Linked DNA regions of Homo sapiens: regions 2 and 3 are each linked to region 1. Evidence: fine-mapped expression QTL. A gene starts in region 1. Each other region holds a variant in brackets. All regions are shown on one strand. Distances are between the middles of the regions.

Region 1 (2,766 bases):
CTTTAAACATGACATGTAACAGTTTGCTACTCTCTAGAAGTAGTGCTTAGTGACAGGCATCACAGAGTACAGAGTAGTAATAAAGAGCCAGGGTTCTGGAGCCAGACTGCCTGAATTCCCGTCCTGTCTACACTACTTATTAGCTGTGTAACTTTGGGTAAATTACTTATTTCTGTTTCAGTTGCCTTAGCTGTAAGAAGAGAGTTACTGCCTGTAGTCACCTCAAAGTGTCATTATGTGAATTGCATAGGTTAATATACGCAAACCACTTCAATCATTGTCTAGTACTATAAATATTTGCCATTTTCTTGATACTGTTCCCCGTTTCAATAGCTTTCCATTGCTCACAAAATAAAGGAAAATATCTTTAATCTGGCCTCAAATTCCCTGCACGTTGTGACCATTGCCTACTCTGCAACCCCATTTCTTAGTACTTGCCTTCCAGACATACTGAATTGTCTCTAATTCTTGGAAATTTCCATGGTTTTCTTTTTCTTTCTTGCCTCTCAGACTTCTGAACTCAGTTTCTCCTAGTTTAGGACGCTGTGCCTTCCACCCTCCCAGTAACCTAGAGACTACCCTGCGAGACTCACCCTCTTCTCCCTGGAAGAAGAGGGAGTTCTGCCAGCAGACTGTCTTTGGACTTGGACTGAGTACTTCTCTGGGTCTCCAGCCTACTGGCCCACCCTGCAGATTTTAGACTTGCATCTCCACAGTCGTGTGATCCAGTTTTAAAAATACCCCCTCTCTCCATACACATATATACACATATACATCTTGTTGATTCTGTTTCTCTGAAGAACTCTACTAAAAGAAGTATTATCAAAATTAAAAAGGAGCTTGAACTCATGTAGCCTAATGCTCTTCTTTTTAAAGATGAGGAAAAGAGATATTCAGAGAAAGAAGTGAATTTACCTAAATTACCCAGCTAAGGAGTTACACTTCCCATATATCATATTTATTGCATATATAAGTAAGCAACAACTTCTCGAGAAGCTCGGTGAGTCCCCAAGGTCCCCAGCGCTTCTACCCTCACTGCACTGGGTAAGCTGTACCCTGACTGCTTCTGTGTACTCAAGCTCCCATCCGCCCGCGGGCCTCCTGAGAGAGTCGGCCTAATTCGTAAGCTGGTTCCCAGTAAACAGTGCAGAGCAGGCGCTAAGTGAATGAATGAGCACGAGAGCTGGAAGCCCTCTGAGGCCTCTCTGGTGTCCCTTGTCCGCCCGCCGCCTCGGCCCCGGCCAGGTTGGAAGGACCGGGTGCCCCTACCGCCCGGAGTGGCGCTCTCAGCGTCCCCGCACCTTCATGCGCAGTAGATTCTTGGACAACCTTGTCTTTCGCTCGGCCGCCATGGTAGCTTCCGCCCAGCGCCGCACTCCGGCCGCGAGCCTCACCGCACATGCGCGGAGCCGCGTGCGCAGCTGCGTCCCTCGCGTAGTGCGCGCCGCCCCGCCCCGCCCCTCCCCTGTGTCTTGCGCGCGGGCGCGGCCACTCAGCGGGCGCTCTGCTGACTGAGAGGCTCGGGTAAGCTCGCGGGGTGGCGGGCGCGGGGATGAGCGCGGCAGACCGCAAAAAAGCCGAAGTCAGAGGACGACCCAGAACTTGGCTTCCCCGAGCCGCGGGTCGCCTTCCCGGGACGTCGGCCTGGCCCCCTCGGAGGCCCATCCTCCCTCGGGGACTCCCTTCCTCAGGGACCCCCTCCACACTCAGTAGTCCTCGCCAGCCTCAGAGAGGTTTCCGCCACGCCTGCCACCCGCCTGGGCCGTGTTACCCACGTGTTTTGTCTTCATAACGTGGGTGGCGGGCTCCCTTTGTTCTGGGTCGCTTTGCAGGGTCCAGGTCGTTTTCTCTTCACCAGGACCCCACGAGTTGCTGCTTTCCTCACAGCAGCCCGGAGTCCCGGGGGAGCGCGGCGGGGGCCGCCCCAGGCAGGCTGGCTTCATTCCCAGGCTGCTGCCGATGCGTGTCTGGCCGAGTGATCTCTGCTAAACAGAAGAATCTCAAGAAATGGCAAGGGATGGAGGCAGGGATGGGTGCCAAAGACACATGAATGAGAACAAAGCCTGGTTTTGATCCAAAGAATTGAAAAGACCATAGCGAGGGGCAACATAGGGAGACCCCACCTCTACAAAAAAAAAAAAAAAAAAAAAAAAAAAAAAAATATATATATATATATATATATATATACACAAAAAATATACAAAATATACATACAAAAAATATATACAAAATATACAAAAAATGTACAAAAGATACAACAAAAATAGCTGGGTGTGGTGGCACGGATCTGTGGTCTCCACTACTTGGGAGGCTGAGGCTGGAGAATCACTGGAACCCGGGACGTCGAGGCTGCAGTGAGCTGACATCCCGCCACTGGACTCCAGTCTGGGCTACAGAGTGAGGCTTTGTCTCAAAAACAAAACAACAAAACAAAAAAGAATTTAAAAAACCACTGAAAATAGGGTAGCGTTCCTACCCTGGTGTTTAATGCTCTGGGTACCACCTAAACACGTTTTCGAAAACCATTCCCAGGTCCGACGCTTTGGAACACCCTCAAGCTAATAGCATCTCGGCTGATACCATGAGTTCTACGTCAGATTGTTGACCTGGTCACCTTAGGGCTAATTAGTTCACTTAATCCCCATAAGAACCGGAAAGAAGGTATTGTCATCGTGTTGTTAAGGATTCTGAGACACAGAGTGGGTAACGCACTTGGTGTTCACACAGCTAATCCATGTTAGAGCTGAAATTCAAACACCGATTTGG
Region 2 (2,766 bases), 30 kb after region 1:
AATCTAGAGGAGAGGGGCAGGAGTTAAAAATTTTCTCTGTCTCTGTCTCTCTTTCTCCCCTCCTCTCCCCACACACACAGTGATAGAAATAAGAGGTCTATGGTGGCTTGAGAACACATAATAGGAAGAGTCAGACTGATCAGACTGATTACACTGGACAGGGAAAGGCTTTGATATGATTCGGTTGAGGTAAGGTATAGATTAGTTATGATACAAGCTAAGCTCTGTCACAAAGATGCTACATTGTCATGGCTTCAATAAGATGTAAATTTCTTTCTCTTTTATATGACAGAGGTGAGCAGTTCAGGGTTGGTAGGCAGCTCTGCCATCTTCAACATCTGGCTTCCAATCCTACCTCTGTGGATATCATTTTGAGCCAGAAGGAGGGGAGAAAGAAATGGCTTTCAAGAGGTGACTTGGCAGCTGTACACATCATTGTTTCTTGGCCAGAATTTAGTCACATGACCACACCTAGCTACAAAGTAGGCCAGAAGATGTTGTTAGTGGTGATAGCTAGGTGCGTGGGAGTTCTATTTAAAAGGAAGATAAGAATGGATGCTGGTGGGCAGAGGGGACAGTCTTTGGCACAGAAATGAAGGATGAGTAAGAGTTAATTAGGCTGAAGTGAAGGGAGACAGAGGGGTAGCACATGGAAAGGCTGCATCACTGGAGGAAGTGTGGTGACCTTCGCTGAAAGTAGGTCACGGGCCTGGGTCATAGAGGTGGGCAGATTCAAGGTGAGCTGGGCATGAGCCAGATTACGCTTAGCTTATGGCTCAGGGCAAAACGTTGGTCTTCATTCTAGAGCCAGTGAAGCCATTAGGGTTGAAAATGGAAGGAAGGGGACCCAAGAAAATTCTCTCTTTGAAGAGATCACCTATTACAGTGTGGAGAATGGATCAGAGGGCACAGTAGTCATACACCACATCAGGCACCATGCTAGGTGCTGGGAAATGGCAGCTGAGCAGGATAGACCCAATTTCTGACCTCCCAGAGTTTACATTCTGTGGGAGGGAGGGAGAAAGCTAAGGAAGATCTAGGAGTCACAAGGGATAACTTTCCTACGACAGAGCCAGGCAGGGACTGTCAGTGACATTTTGACTGTAAGTTGGGAGAGGCCCTGGTTCTGCTTTAACTGCAGCTTCTCTCTCCATAAAATGGAGGAAGCCTCCAACAATGGGTTCATTCAAAGGGGAGGTATTTTCTACCAGCTTCTTCTTTTTTTTTTTTCTTTTTTTGAGACAGAATCTCACTCCGTCGTCCAGGCTGGAGTACAGTGGCATAATCTCCGCTCACTGCAACTTCTGCCTTCCAGGTTCAAGCGATTCTTCTGCCCCAGCCTCTGGAGTAGTTGGGATTACAGGCGTGCTCCACCACACCTGGCTCATTTTTGTATATTTTTGGAGAGACGAGGTTTCACCATGTTGGCCAGGCTGTTCTCAAACTCCTGGCATCAAGTGATTCTATCACCTTGGCCTCCGAAAGTGCTGGGACTGCAGGCGTGAACCACTGCAC[C/T]TGGCCCAGCTTATTTTTCTTAATTGAAGTAAAATTCACATAACATAAAATTAACCATTAACCACTTTAAAGTGTACAATTCAGTGGCATTAAGTGCATTCATATATTGTATAACCACCATCTCTATCTAGTTCCGAGACATTTCGTCACCCAGAAAGGAAAGCTCGTACCCATTATGCTCCATCATACTCCTACTCCCTGTCACTCAAACCCCTGGAAACTCATTAGCCTGCTTTCTATGTCCATGAACTTACATATTCTGGAGCTTTCATTTAAATGGAATTATGCAATATGTAACCCTTAGTGACTTGCTTCTTTCACGCAGCATGAGGTTTTTGTGGTTCATCTATGTTATAGCATGTATCGGTATTTTATCCTTTTTTATGGCTGAACAATATTCCATTGTATAGATAGACCATATTTTGTTTATCCATTCATTCATTGATGGACATTTGTACTGTTTCTGCCTTTTGGCTGTTGTGAATAGTGCTGTTGTAAACCTTTGAGTCCACTTGCTTATTTTTTTCCCAAAGTAGGTTTTTTCATCCTATGTGTAAAAAACCAACAGGAGAGGAAACAAAAGATGAATTGAATTCTTCTATCCTCAGTTGTGTACCGTCACCCCCATCACCCTGACCCAAGTGCATCTACGGGCTCCAGGGTCCTGCCCTACTCCACTCAGGCTGTCACAGTTCTCTCCTGTTGCCTGCCCCACTTCTATTTTCCATGCCAGCTCTTCTGTTCTCCCAGTGGGATTTCCGTGGTCTCTGAAGGAAACTCCACACCTCTGCTTTTGCTTCCTGTCCTCTCACTCCTCTACCCATCACCCACACCTGGAAACCCCACCCCCATTCCTGGTTTTCCAGACTCCGTCATTCTTCATGATTGCCTTTCTTCAAAGTCAGCACAGTGTCATCATTCGAGGAAGGTGGGAACAGCATGAGGAAGTGAGGAGAAGGCTGTTGATGTGTGAGGAGGTCAGCTGGTTCATTCTTTCCTGTTCATCCATTCACTCATTGTTTTATTCATTTTTCCAACGAAGATTTATTGAGCACTCACTCTAGATAAGAAACTAGTGCTAAAGCTTCAGACATGGATGCATGGCCTGGCTCTTGGAGTTCACAAGTGAGTCAGATGTCTAAACAAAAAAGCCACAAGACAATACAGACTTTTAATAGGGATACAAACAAGGTATTGTTGGAGCTTGGACAAAGCAGGTGGGCAAGGGGTATTTGAGAAATTACAAGGGCA
Region 3 (2,766 bases), 150 kb before region 1:
AATTTTTAAATTATTAAATATAAAAATAAAGTATTAATTCGATGGATGTGGGTTTTTTCCAATTTGTTCAGGTATCTTAATTTGAATGCTACTTACTAATAGAAAAATACAGGTTTCAGCATGAATTATATTGCTATTTTTAAAATTCTTATACACGTATCACTGAGAATTTTCATTCACAGAAGTGAGTAGATGGGGATGGAACTAGATTTGAATAGCAACTTTACTCAATTAAAAAAATCCATCAATATATTTCTCAATATTGACATATTAAATAAGCTTAACCATATGATCATATCCATAGATGAAGAATAAACATTTGACAAAATTCAACATCCTGTTGTGATAAAATTCTCAGCGAGTTAGGAATAGATGGGACACTCAATTTTTAAACCTCCTTTTGAATTATATGCCCCTAATTAAATTTTATGGTCAACTGGCAACTAGGTTAGGTTCTTCTTCAGTTTTGCTGGAAGCTGAGAATTGTAAACACAATTACTTGCAAAATAATTTATTATTCCATCTTCAGTGTCCAGAAATTAGACCAAAGTGGGTTTAAACCCATATCAAATGAATACTAATTATACTTGTTATTTTTTTTCTCCGAGACATTATGTTTCCCTAAGTATACTCAGAGTTGGGTAAATCACAACAGCGTTAATGTTAATTTCAATATAATACCATATTGTGAATGCAATATTTTTGATAAAATGCTTTTATCTTATGTATCTTAAATATATTTTAGGACAACTTTGTAACTGAAGACAACTCATTCAAGTTCTGGAATATATTCATCATATAATTGGCAAAGCCATTTCACATTGTCAAGTCAAACAGCTAAATCAAAGTATTTACATTATTTTTGAGTTTTATGGTCACGTTATATTTAATGATCAGCTGTTAGAAAAAATAATTGACTTCATATTTCAGTTCAAGTAAACATGTTAACAGTATACTCATGACCACCATTTTGTTTTATTTTGTTTTTGATAGATAGACAGTGTCTTGTTCAGTTTGGGCTGCTATTCCAAAGTACCAGAGGTGGCTTAACAGGAACAGGAGGCTTATCAACAACATAAGGTGGCTTATCAACAGCATAATTTTTTTTTTCACAGTTCTTGAGGCGGGAAGTCTGCGATCAGGGTGTCGGCATGATTGGGTTCTGGTGAGGTTGCAGAACTGCTGGCTCTGCAGGCTGCTGGCTTCCTTTATCCTCCCGGGGCCAAAAGAGGGCAAGAGAGCTCTCCAGGTTGTAAGGGCATTAATCCCGTTCATGAGGGCTCTACCGCCATAGCCTAATTACCTCCTAAAGGCTCTACGTCCAAATACCATCACATTGGGGGTTAGGATTTCAACATATAAAGTTGGGGGTTGAGATGATACAAACATTCAGTCCATTGTCAGCAGACAGATACAGCATGAAGTTTGTTATTGTTG[C/T]TATGGTTTTATTATTTAGATCATTTCCATGGGAAAATTCAGAGCATGATGAGGGAGCCAGTTGCATTGAGCCGGAGACATACAAGAAAGGAATCACAGGAGTCGAGGGAATTAGGCAACTAGACAAGAACATTCTAGGCAGAGGAAACTGCTGGATCAAGGAGGGTGTCCCATGTGTTTGATAAGAAGTAAGTAGGTCCTTGGGACTAGAATAGAGTGAAAGAGGGGGTAGAAGTCAGATGTGGTCTAAGAACTGCAGGGGCCAGACCATCCTTGTAGCCATTTAAGGATTTTGGCTTTTCTCTAGGTGAGACGGGAGGCTTTGCCAGGTTTTCAGTAGATGAGTGATAAGATTGGACTAAAGTTTTGAAAAGAATTTTTTTCTGGTGCTGGGTTGAAAATGGACTGTTGGGAGACAGGGGTGGAACCAGAGGGATCTACTGGAGGCAGTTGCAATGCTGGCAGGGGGTGATGATGCCTTGGACTAGGCTAGCAGCAGTGGAGGGAGTCAGAAGTAGTCAGGTAGTGGATAAATTCTGAAGGTAGAGCTAGCAAGATTTCTTGGTGGATTGGATGTGGGTTGATTCCAACAGCAGAGTCAAGGGGAGTCCAGTGCTTGCATGCTGTGCTGCTGAAAGGATGAAGTTGTCCTCACTGAGATAGAGAAGGCTGTGAATAAAGTAAATTTGGCACTTGTAACTTTGGGAGTAGGAGTTAGAGTAGGCTGTGAGATGACAAGTGAGATGACAACCCTGTAGGAAACAGGGAGAAGTTGAGTCTGTGGAACAATATGGGTGGGAGGAAGAGGAGGAGGTTAAAGAGACAGTGAGAGAATTAAGAGAAGCTCAAGGAAGTATCTAGGAGGTTAGGAAACTCCCTGGTGGTGGTGAGAGGAGACAAAGGATCCTTTAGTAAGTAGAGTTACATCACTGTTGTATGTCCTTTGGTGATTGCGGTAGTTTCCTAGGGCTGCCATAACAGATGACCATGACCTTGGTGGCTTGAATCAGCAGTCCACAACCTTTTTTGGTGCCAGCGACTGGTTTCATGGAAGACAATTTTTCCACAGATCTTTGTGGGGGTGGGGGAATGGTTTTGGGATGATTCAAGTACATTACATTTATTGTGCACTTTATTTCTATTATTATTACATTGTAATCTATAATGAAATAATTATACAACTCACCATAATGTAGAGTCAGTGGGAGCCCTGAGCTTGTTTTCCTGCAACTAGACAGTCCCATATGGGGGTGATGGGAGACAGTGACAGATCACCAGGTGTTAGATTCTCATAAGGAGCACACAACCTAGATTACTCACATGTGCAGT

What was found. PIP is the estimated chance that this variant, and not a neighbour inherited with it, causes the effect.
Region 2: its variant is fine-mapped to the expression of MPHOSPH6 in left ventricle (GTEx, PIP 0.94).
Region 3: its variant is fine-mapped to the expression of MPHOSPH6 in cerebellar hemisphere (GTEx, PIP 0.93).

What each region holds. Positions count from the first base shown.
Region 1 is chr16:82,168,824-82,171,589 of GRCh38, forward strand. MPHOSPH6 (M-phase phosphoprotein 6) reads right to left here and starts at 1,401. Exons shown (of 5, transcript NM_005792.2): 1 at 1,302-1,401. The coding sequence starts at 1,352. RefSeq lists an enhancer at 1,258-1,402, a cis regulatory region at 1,330 and a silencer at 1,377-1,536.
Region 2 is chr16:82,198,941-82,201,706 of GRCh38, forward strand. No RefSeq gene overlaps it. Among named protein-coding and RNA genes, the nearest start is that of MPHOSPH6, 30 kb to the left of the region's middle. The variant C/T (reference allele first, on the strand shown) is at 1,516.
Region 3 is chr16:82,022,255-82,025,020 of GRCh38, forward strand. No RefSeq gene overlaps it. Among named protein-coding and RNA genes, the nearest start is that of HSD17B2, 12 kb to the right of the region's middle. The variant C/T (reference allele first, on the strand shown) is at 1,438.